2 separate regions of the Homo sapiens genome follow, and region 2 is linked to region 1. Evidence: fine-mapped expression QTL. A gene starts in region 1. The other region holds a variant in brackets. All regions are shown on one strand. Distances are between the middles of the regions.

The links. PIP is the estimated chance that this variant, and not a neighbour inherited with it, causes the effect.
Region 2: its variant is the best candidate, but not a certain one, in a credible set for the expression of ARHGAP22 in whole blood (TOPMed, PIP 0.61).

Annotation. Positions count from the first base shown.
Region 1 is chr10:48,602,084-48,607,459 of GRCh38, reverse strand. It overlaps ARHGAP22 (Rho GTPase activating protein 22), which reads left to right and starts at 2,387. Exons shown (of 10, transcript NM_021226.4): 1 at 2,387-2,697. The coding sequence starts at 2,664. RefSeq lists a silencer at 2,220-2,379 and an enhancer at 2,236-2,966.
Region 2 is chr10:48,573,264-48,578,639 of GRCh38, reverse strand. The region is part of intron 2 of ARHGAP22 (Rho GTPase activating protein 22); the gene reads left to right. Among named protein-coding and RNA genes, the nearest start is that of ARHGAP22, 29 kb to the left of the region's middle. RefSeq lists enhancers at 1,191-1,240, 3,611-4,112. The variant A/G (reference allele first, on the strand shown) is at 3,145.

The DNA.
Region 1 (5,376 bases):
CTTCATCTCAGGAAGTACTGAGAGCACAGTCTGAGGTTGGAGAGGAGAAAAGAGCTACTTTGCCCACCTGCCCCATTCCCCCAGCCTTCTCAGACGCAGAACGTAGATCAACTCCTGCCCTTTTCCCAGCCTGACTTCTGGGGTGTGAGCCCAGCTCTGATCCCCAGAAAAGCAGGCGAGTGAACACAGTGACTTAATATCATCAGGGAAAACAGCTGCACAGGAAAAGCGCCTGGGGGTGGTTTCTTAACCAAAACAAGCGTGAGTGGACCCAGACTAAGTCTCAGGGCATTTCCTTGCCTCTGACTTGGATGAAGTGGTCCAGGCTGCATTACTCACAAATGGCTTCCTGATTGCTCAAGACATTGTCACAAGCCACAGGACTTGCCCTGTGACCCTGGTGTCGACATGAGATTTTCTAGCTTGATATTCTCCCCACTCCTCATGGGTGGCCCCTGTCCCAACCAGGGCTTGTACCTGGCCTTAAAGGAAAAGGAGGTCAGTTCTGTCATTCAGTGGTGTTTCTTGGATCTGCCCATGAAGCCAGAGTTTCCTGTGAGGCTTCTGGCCTGAGTCAGCCTGGGGCTCAGGGAGGGCGTACAAGAGGGGCAGTACAGGGACATAGATAAGGGCCCAGGGGAAGTGCTTAGTGGCTCATTCTGCTGGTGGAATCAGGAGAATTTCATTGGGGAATTGCCCAAAGAGGACAAGGCAATGTGAGGAAGGGCATTCCAGAGAGAGGGAACTGCACGTGCAAAGACACAGCTACATGTGCAAAAACACAGAGGCACAGGAGAGCAGGGGCTGCACATGCAAGAACAGGAACACACAGGAGCAAGGCATGTGCAAAGTCACTGGGGCACACAGGAGCAGGCGCTGTATGTGCATATGGTTGTATAGAGCATCGGCAAGAGATAGGTCAGAGAGGAGTCCATGGATGCTACCATGAAAGAACCTGGAATGTTATGCCAAGGTACTCATTCATCCCTCTGAGGAGTAGCTGAAGACCAGAACAAGTGACTTGATGCTGAGTAAGACAGCTTTGTGTCCATGGACTCTACCTTCTCCCACCAGCTTGGCCATGTGGCTCACCACATCCTGGTGAGTCTTTCTTCTTACTCTGCAGTCCTCCCCTCTCCATAGGGCACACTGTTCCCTAGGGAGGACTGCCACAGTGATCTCCTGGTGGGCTCTCTCCCTCTACAGCTGCTAAAGTTGATTACATACCAATAGGACACTTGGGGATCTGTGGACATGGGGCACTCGAGGGAGTGTGGAGGGTCAGATGGAGGCTATGGCCATCTGAGCAGGGGAGGGCATTGTTCAAATCCCTCTTTACCAGCTACTGAAAGGGTCACACAGTTCTCAGGCCCAAATAGCCAGACCCAAGCTCAGATGCCTAAGAGGATACACGGAGTGATTATCAGGGGCACAGAGGCAGGTCACCGTTCAGCAAGTTCATCGGGGGCTCAAGCCAGGAGCTGTTACCATGCAGTGATGGGAATAGGGTGGAGAGGCTGGCATCACAGAGCAGCAGGAGCTGTAGACACAGCCCTGGGTTCTGGTGCCCGCCCTGCTGCTCGGTACTGTATGACTTTGGGCAGGTGATTCAACCTTGCTGTGCCTTATTTTCCAGATTTGAAACGCTATATATATAGCACCTGCTTCAGGAGTTTGAGAGTTAAATGAGATATTGAATGTAAAGCACCAGCCTCAGTGCCTGACACATAGTAGGTGCCTAATAAATGATAGCTATTGTTATGATTGCATTCCTTGGGTAATTTTTAGCATCTTGAGGCTGGATTCCGCTCCTCACAAAGCCCCAGTATACACCCTTTAAAATTATGCCAGCATCAAACAGAAACATGGCAATTAGCAGAGATTCACTATTCAATTCAGATCTTCCTATGAAGAGCCCTGAGTTAAGTGCTTCCTGCCCTCTTATTCCTGTCACCTTACTAAAGAGGCATAAATAGTATCCCTAACAGGCATCTTCCTGTTGGGAGTCTCCTGAGGAGTTTACATTGCCGGGCTGCTTGCTCCTTCCCAGACACACCTGACTTTCAACACGTAAAACAGTGAGCTCATAAGCGGGTCCCCGTGGATTGGGCTCTGGGGTGGGGGGGGGGTCTCGGCTACCTTCTCACCAAAGCGCTATCCCACCCGGGCTTGGCAGGGAGTGCGGCTCCCAGGCGGCGGCTGAAAGGCGCATTTCTTCCAGCCTCAGCAAAGGATGGCCGGAACCCCAGTACCCTCTCCCGGGCCAGGACCGCGCCCCGCGTCTCTGGCTGGCCCCGCCCCTCTCGGCCCCGCCCCGCCCCCGCGCTCAGCTTGGACAGCCACGCGTGCGCCCAGGCCAGGCGGAGGGACTGCCCCGCCCTGGTCCAGTGATTGATCAGCAGTGATTACTGAGGCTTTAATGGTCCGCTTGGATGGGAATTAATTCTGGGATGGATAAATAATGCATCGAGGTTTATGTAGTCCAAGGCGAGCCGTCCGTCCGGAGCCAGGAGAGGTAGCCGAGGGAGCCTGACGGGTGACGCCAGCGGCCACGGGGCCCCGAACGAGCAGGACATGAGGGGCGACTAGGCGCGAGGACGAGCAAAAGCAAGTGGATGACAGCATGAACGGCCCTGCGGGGCTGGCCGGACGGCTGCAAGAACATGCTGAGCCCAAAGATCAGGCAGGCCAGGAGGGGTAAGTCCAACTTTCTGGGGTTTCTCTGGGCACCGCATGTGCCTCTTGGCAAACGTGCGCGGACACTTGGCCAGCCGTCACGCCATGTGTCACATGGGGCGGGCGTTCTGGGACCATTGCCGCTGAATAGTGAGCATCCTCCTGAGGAAGTGCCCTTCCTCGTGAAACTCCTGGGCTGGGTGGGGACACGACCTGAAGTTGCAAAAGGGCGGTGGCCGGCTTAGTGCCCCAGTGGGTGTGCACACTTCGCCCCACATTCCACATTTTACAGAGGCCCTCGGTCGCTCCAGGTGACCTGGTGGCAACTTTAAGGAAACTTTGCTTCTTTACTAAAAAGGAAATGCCCAAGATTTGCCCTGTGGCCAACACAGAAGCACCCCTTACCAGGGAAGGCCATGCCCTGGCTTCTAGAGACAGCTGGGTGCAAGCGAGGGTCTTCGTTCCCGCTGCTTTGCAGACAGTATTTCCTCAAGCAGGCCAGGGGCAGGCAGGCTTTCCTGCCAGAACACTCAGAAAGCTGCAGGGTCTGGGGGCAGGACGGGTGGATGCGGGAGCAGACTCAGACCAGCAAGAGATGGGGGTCAGGAGAGTCCAGGACTGGGCTAGCCAGCCTGTGTCCAGCCAGCGACCCAGCACAGTGACCTGAAGACTTGGCCACTGTATGGGGCTAGAGACAGCATCTCCATGGACAACAACTTCTTAGCCACGGAAAGTGTCATTTTGAATGAGAACATCTGTCTTTTACAAAAATAGAATGTGTCTTTTCAGGTGGCCAGTATCTGGGAGGGCTGAGCTCCTTTTGTAAACAATGAAGTGGAGGATGGGTCTTTGGAGGTGGATGGAGCATTTGCCTGGGAGCTTGGAAACAGTTTGTGTCTCACCAGGTGTTTGCAGCGGGGGGCCTCCAGCCTCCTGTGGATTCACAGGGAACACACCCATCTTATTAGCACACTGCAAGCACTTGGATGATTTTCCTGGATGGGACCAGCCTTCCAGTGTGTTCCACAGACGTCAGGACCCCTCTGTGGGGTGCTTTCGCATGGGCTGAACCCTGTGTACCCCAATGGGCAAAGGAGGAACTTGCATGGCTCTGCTGAGGAGGGGGCAAGTCTAGTGATGACCCAAGGGATAGGACAAGCCAGATACCTCTGCGAGAGCTTAGTTCCACCCTCCCACTCCTGTGTAATGAGCTGGCCACTGGCCACATGTGGCTACTAAGCACTTGGCATGTCACTAGTCCAAATTGAGAAAAAGACACACCAAATTTTGATGATTTAGTACAAAAAAAGAATGTACAATATCTCATTAATAATTATTTTACTGAAATGACAGTATTTTGGATATATTGGGTTAAATAAAATCTATTATTAAAACTAATTTTACCTGTTTTACATTCTTTTACTATAGCTACTAGAACATTTACAAGTACATATGTGACTCATATTATATTTTTTATATTTCTATTGGACAGTGCTAGTAAGAGACCAGTGCTTCAGCAAAGGGGCTTACAGGCAGCCTGTCTTTGAAATCCAGGATTTCTCATAAATGTTTGTTTTAAGTCAATGGTTCTCAACCAGGAGCAATTTGCCCCACTAGAGAACATTTGGCATTGTTTGGAGTATTTTTGGTTATTCCAACTGAGGGGTGCTACTGGCATCTAGTGCGTATAGGCCAGCCATACAGCCCTCTTCCAGTCCTCAGTGTTCCATGAGGCTTCCACCATAGGGCTTTTGCACATCGTTCTTTCCCCTGAAATGCCTCCCACATTCACATGTGCGCACATGCATGCCTGTATGTGTGTGCACATGCGTTCATGCATACAAACATACACACACACCTTAATTCCTATTCACCCTCCAGTTATAGTATAGTTCAAGTGTTGCCAGCCAGGGAAGTCTTCCCACACACCCCAGTCCAGGCTGGATCCTCTGCTCCATCTCTCCTTTTCTTTATGGTATTTACCATAGGTTGCAGTTGTATACTCCTGAGTGTGACTGATTGGTGAATATCTGTCACTTGCATTGCTCCATGAGCTTCGTGAAAGCAGGAACCATTTCTGTTCGGGGACATCATTATACCCCCAATGCCAGGTACCTGGTGGACACTCAACCTGTGTTTTTTGAGTGAGTGGATGAATAGCTGGATAGAGGAGAAAGCATTTGCCTGGGTGGCTGGAGCACTGTCTCTACCCAAGCTGGCCCGGTACTTAGGAAATTTGGCCTCATCTTTCACTGACTCATATGTTGCAAATATTTTCCCAATTTGTTGCTTGCCCTTTATTTTTATATTAGAGTGGGTTTTTTTTCTAGATGTACCTGTTTTTAACTCGTATATATTTTCCTTTTAGAATTTCTGTCTTTGTTTGCAATATTTCAAAATAAAATTGTTGATGCTATTAAGGAGGCTCCTTCTTTTAAAGGAAATCATCAGACTGATGGGCCAAGTTATAGGAGCTTTAACCATCTCCTGTAGCAGGAGTGTCAATGTCTCAGGAGCCTTGATGAATGTTCAGAGCCTGGTCAATACTTTGGGGGTGGGGAGAGAAAGCTCTATTAATATGATGAAGTACCTTCAATGGCCTTATTCTTGTGATTGTCCCACAAGAAAGTAAACCAACATTTATTGTGCACCCATGCTCCAGGCACTTTTGTTGTACCTCATTTAATTCTCATGACTACA
Region 2 (5,376 bases), 29 kb after region 1:
AAAGCAAAAAAGACAAGTTAATAACAAAATGACATTGAGGAGAGTGTGCAGGCATGAGAGAGCGAAGATCAAACACACACACACAGACACACACACACACACACACACACACACATACACTGCATAATACTTCTGTAGTTAATGAGAAAACCAAAACTCAAATTCAAACTTCCAGTTAAGGGTGACATTTAAAAGTCACATTTGGCTCCTCCACATCACAAAACTTCATGATACAGCACTAGAGGATGTTTTTAAAGGCACAAGCACAACTAGATGGAAAGAACATGAGGGGAGAAAGCATTCTGGATGCAGGAAAACAGATGAGGGAGAGGCTGCTGATTTATTTAGCTGATCCAAGACAGCTAAATCCCAAACCAGCACAAAGGAGAGCATGGAAGCTGTCTGGTTTGCAAAACAAAACCCCTCAAAGACTTGGGGCTTGGCAGGACTAGATATCTCTGGAAATGAGGGCAAAAAAGGAGCTCAGGACAGGAGCACTGGGTGAAGGTTAACTTAAAAAAAAGCAGTTAGGGCCAGGCGCAGTGGCTCACGCCTCTAGTCCCAGCACTTTGGGAGGCCAAGGCAGGCAGATCATTTGAGGTCAGGAGTTCGAGACCAGCCTAGCCAACATGGTGAAACCCCGTTTCTACTAAAAATACAAAAATTAGCCGGGTGTGCTGGCACATGCCTGTAATCCCAGCTACTCGGGAGGCTGAGACAGGAGACTTGCTTGAACCTGGGAGGTAGAGGTTGAGACAAGATAAGCGCTACTGCACTTCAGCCTGGGCAGCAGAGCGAGACTCTGTCTCCAAAAAAAAAAAAAAAAAAAAAAAAAAAACCAAAAAAGAGCAGTTAGATCTCAGATTTTCTGAGCAATCCAGTGCCAAGAGGTGACTGCCCGCCCCGACTCAGCTGTAAGACTGGAGTTGTATGTATTCTCTGAGAATAAAAGGGAGCCCTTTATAATGGGGACTCTGGCCCTTTCTTGGTGGAATATCTTAGAGAACAGGAAGGTTGGGTGAACATCAGTGTGCAGACCAGTTCCTTAGGCCCCAGTCTCTATCCACATTTGGTTTCCAAGCCCCAGCAGTCAGGAGTAGCCCCCAGGAAGGAAACTGATGAATTTTCTCCAGTAAATTTCTCCAGAGGTTCTCCAGTAAAATGGCGGAGGTGGACCCTCCTGTGTATGCCCTCCCCATCCTCCGACGCCACCCAGTCAGCTCCATAGAGAACCATTCTCAAGTGGGAGTGATAGGCCTGGTTCAGCAGACATTTGAGGAAACACTCTCATTTGAGGAACCAAGACAAAAAGAGGAAGAAAACAAAAAGCAAGTTGCAGGCAGCAGATACTGTGCAGGGGGAAGAAAACTGTTATACAAAACTACTGTAATATCCTCAGAGAGAATCTCTAAATACGGAAGAGTCAGAGGAGGAACCGATCCCCAGAAGTCAGAAATAAGATATCATGAATAAAAAACTCCAAAGAAGGGTTGGATGAAAACTTGACACTTCTAGGAAGAAGAGGACAATAAGAGAGACAACCCAATGTCCGAATAGAAGGAGTTTTAGAAAAAGAGAAGAGAGAAATGAAGGAAAAAGAGTCTTTAGAGAAATGCTTGAAATAAACTCCCCAGGATGGGAGTATAAACACTAAATACTAACTGAGATAACCAAAATTACCATGGAGATTTGGGAAGGTGTGTGGTTGGGTGGCGGTGGGTGGCGGTGTGGGGAGGGATGGGTGAGTGGAGAAGGGGCAGAAAGCAAAATCTCACTGCCCATGCTAGGAATTCCACAGACAATGACTAAAATGTAAAATCAAAAAGGAGTAACATAAGCATACTAATTAGAAATAAATATCTTAAAAAAAGGAGAAAGATAGAAAAGAAACCTCATCTGAGACCATAGAACGTGGTGACAGATTCAGGCAATGGCAGGGGAAGAATTTGCTGCCTCATGATAAGCCGTGTAGAACTCTTGATTCTTCAAACTATGTGCAAGTGTAAACTTTCATTGTAAAAAAAAAGTGAAATAAGATGGAAATAATTTATTTTTGAGATTTTGAGCATACAAATAAGACAAGTCAGAGCCATGGGGCAGGGATGTGAGGCAGGGGAGTGAGTTGGTAACAGGGTCAGCTTGCATTTTTTCTGTGTTATTGTAATTTCTCACGTTGAGACTATCTTCATGTAAGTCCATATTTTAAAGTATTTTAAAAATTTAAACAAGAAAAGAAAAACTATAACCAAAAAACGGAATGCAGCAGGGCCACAGTGCTAGAGGTTCTTTGGATGACCAGGAGGAGAATGGGGAGGCCAGGCCAGGGGCTCCCTCTTCTAGAAAGGGCCACTGAGCCCCACGCTGGCCTCTGAAGAGGCCCTGGCATATTGGAGGTTCTTGGAAGATGTGTTTAGAATGAACCTAGGAATGTGTGGGAGGTCCATGGATGCTATGTGTCTGGCAGTCCACACCCAGTGGGGAGCCCATAGTCTCTGACGTAGGGCATAGGATGCTCATCCTACAGGCAGGAACACAAAATGCAGATGTGGGACTAGAGGACTCCTGTAAAGGGGCTTCACTGCCACACCCAGGATCTAGGTCCTCACTTCGTGGGCTGCGATAGGGGTCAGTGAAGGTTGTGGGTTGCTTATACTTGGCCATCAGAGCCCCAAGAGGAGAGTCATCCTGCAGCAGCACAGATAGGGGCTGACCAGGACCAGGCTGGAAGCAGAAAGGCCACTTAGATGGGGCTGGTGTTCTAATATCAGCTGAGGCCAAGAAAATCCTCACCATGCTGGAACAAGGGCTGGGGGCCTTGGAAGAAGCAGGGGAGGGAACATGGCAGGTGGAGTTTGGAATCCACACTTCCCCCTCCCACCTACCTGCCATGGCTGATGCAACATTATGTTCTAGAAGAGGCAATTTAAAAATCACTTTGAGAGCAGGCTAGGTTTCTGTTGTATGTTTTATTTTTTTTCCAGGAGAATAAGTGAGGGAAGCTCAGCAATAAGGAGCCATAGAAGATTGATTTAAAGTTTGATGTGATTGAGTAAAAGCTTGAGACTGGTGGGGAGAAAGTCAAGATGGATGGGAAAGCACATGCACTTCTAGGAGTGGAACATTAATATTGGACAGTCGGAAACC[A/G]GAAATCTTTAAGAAAGAGGAAACCTCAGGGGAAGAAAGAGAGGCCATCCTATCCCATAACTTGAAAGTCACAGGAATATTTCAGCCTGCAGGGAATCTTCATTTCCCACCCCATTGTTTACCAAACTTGCACGTCAAAAACAAAAACAAAAAATAAAATGTTGCTTTCATGAACTCTGTTACTCCATTCTCCCATTGCTATAAAGAAATACCTGAGACTGGATAATTTTTTTTTAAAGAGGTTTAATTGGCTCATTGTTCTGCATGCTGTACAGGAAGCATGATGCTGACCTCTGCTCAGCTTCTGGAGATGCCTCAGGAAACTTAGAATCATGGCGGAAGGCAAAGAGGGAGCAGTCATGTCACATGGCCAGAGCAGGAGCAAAAGAGAGAGCAGGGAGGTGCCACACACACTTTTAAACCACCAGATTTCGTGAGAATTCACTCTATTTTGAGGACAGCACCAAGAAGATGGTGCTAACCACTCAAGAGAAACCGCCCCCATGATCCAAATACCTTCCGCCAGGCCCCACCTCCAACACTGGGGATTACAATTAAACATGAGATTTGGATGGAGACACAGAGCCAAACCATATCACGCTCCTTCCCTGAGTCCTTGACCTGGAGTAGATGCCTGGGTTGTCTCCATTTCTCAAATGAGGAAACTGAAGGACTGACATCAGGCCAAGACTAACAGGTACTCACTCTCAGATAGCGCCTGAAAGCTGACACAAGTTCAGTGAGACTGCTAGGACAACCCCCTGCCGTGCCATTAATGTCTGCCCACAAAAACCTCACACCTTTGGCTGGCTCTATCTTCCATGGCCCTCATCTCAGCACCACCTGGGGGTACGATGAAGATGCCATCAGGTGTCGGAGCTCATCTTGTGCTCACAGCTCACAGGACCGCCCCTGTGTCAGATGCCCTTCACTTCTGGACCTCATAACCTCCACCCAGCTCAAGTTGACTTAGCAAGCCCTAACTGTGCATCCTTCATAAGCTGTAAATTGTTACTCAAACCAGCCAAGAGGATGTCACTGCTATTATTATTGCATTACTGTTTTGATATTGCTGTTGTTATTTATAACACTTCCTCAATTTAATTTCTGTTCTCCATTCTATATCATAAACCTCATTCAGGTGGGGCTTCAATCTGTCTTATTATTTCTCTTTTCCTATCACCTAGCGGTACTTGACACATAATTGGTATCCAGTAATATTGGGTGCTTACTTGAATAATTGAATGAATGAATGAATAAATGAGAAAAATAAATGGAATGAATGAGTGCATAGTGTGACCCATATTTGTATTAGATCCTCAATGGAAAAATAATTTATTGCTTTTGTAAAGTGCCTGAGAATTGGCAAAGAGCTTATTGACTGCCTTCCCTATCAGACTGTAAGCCCAACAAGGTGAGGTTTTTGTCTATCTTGTTTATCTCTGTGTCTCAGTATCCAGAACAATGTCTGACACATAGTAGAAGCTCAATAAACACTTGTTCAATAAACATTCACACAGCATCTCCACAAGGCCAGGCACAATCAATTTCCACTGTACTGGTAGAGAATGTGGGGCTCAAAAAGGTAGAATGAAAGCTTGCATACTATAATGGAAAAAACCATAATATTTGGAACCAGAATACCTGGCTTCAAGTCCCATTTATACCACCTACTAGCTATAGATTTGGGAAGATCATTGAAGCCCTCTTGTTCCTACTTTTGGTGTGGTCCTTTGAGGCTGTGGCTTCACTAAGCATTGGACAAATGGAAGTTGCTGTGGTTGATAGTGTTGTCAATGCTGCCTAAACACTCAGAGATAAGACTATTACAATTCTTAGAATGGGTTCTGAAATGAAAGACCTTCAAGAAGCATGCGAAGGCATCTAATATGAATTATAAAAAGGAAGTTGCAGATCTAGAAAACAATGATTGCCTGAACATGCAGAGCTCCCTGAGACCAGCCCTTCAGATGGTCTTCACTCCCTTTCTTGATTAGGAGTCCAGACTCGTGGGTGGTAAGTCTGCCACGAATACCTGGTGTCTAAATTTTAGCATGTCATATTACAGGATCTTGCGTGATAGAGAAAAATGGCAGATTTCTCTTGAGTAACCAGGATGGTTCTAGCTGGTAACTAGAGAAGATATTTCACTCTCTGAGCCTCAGTTTCCTCCTTGTAAGTTGAGAATAACCACACCTATCTTATAGGACTATGGTGAGAGTAAACTCATGC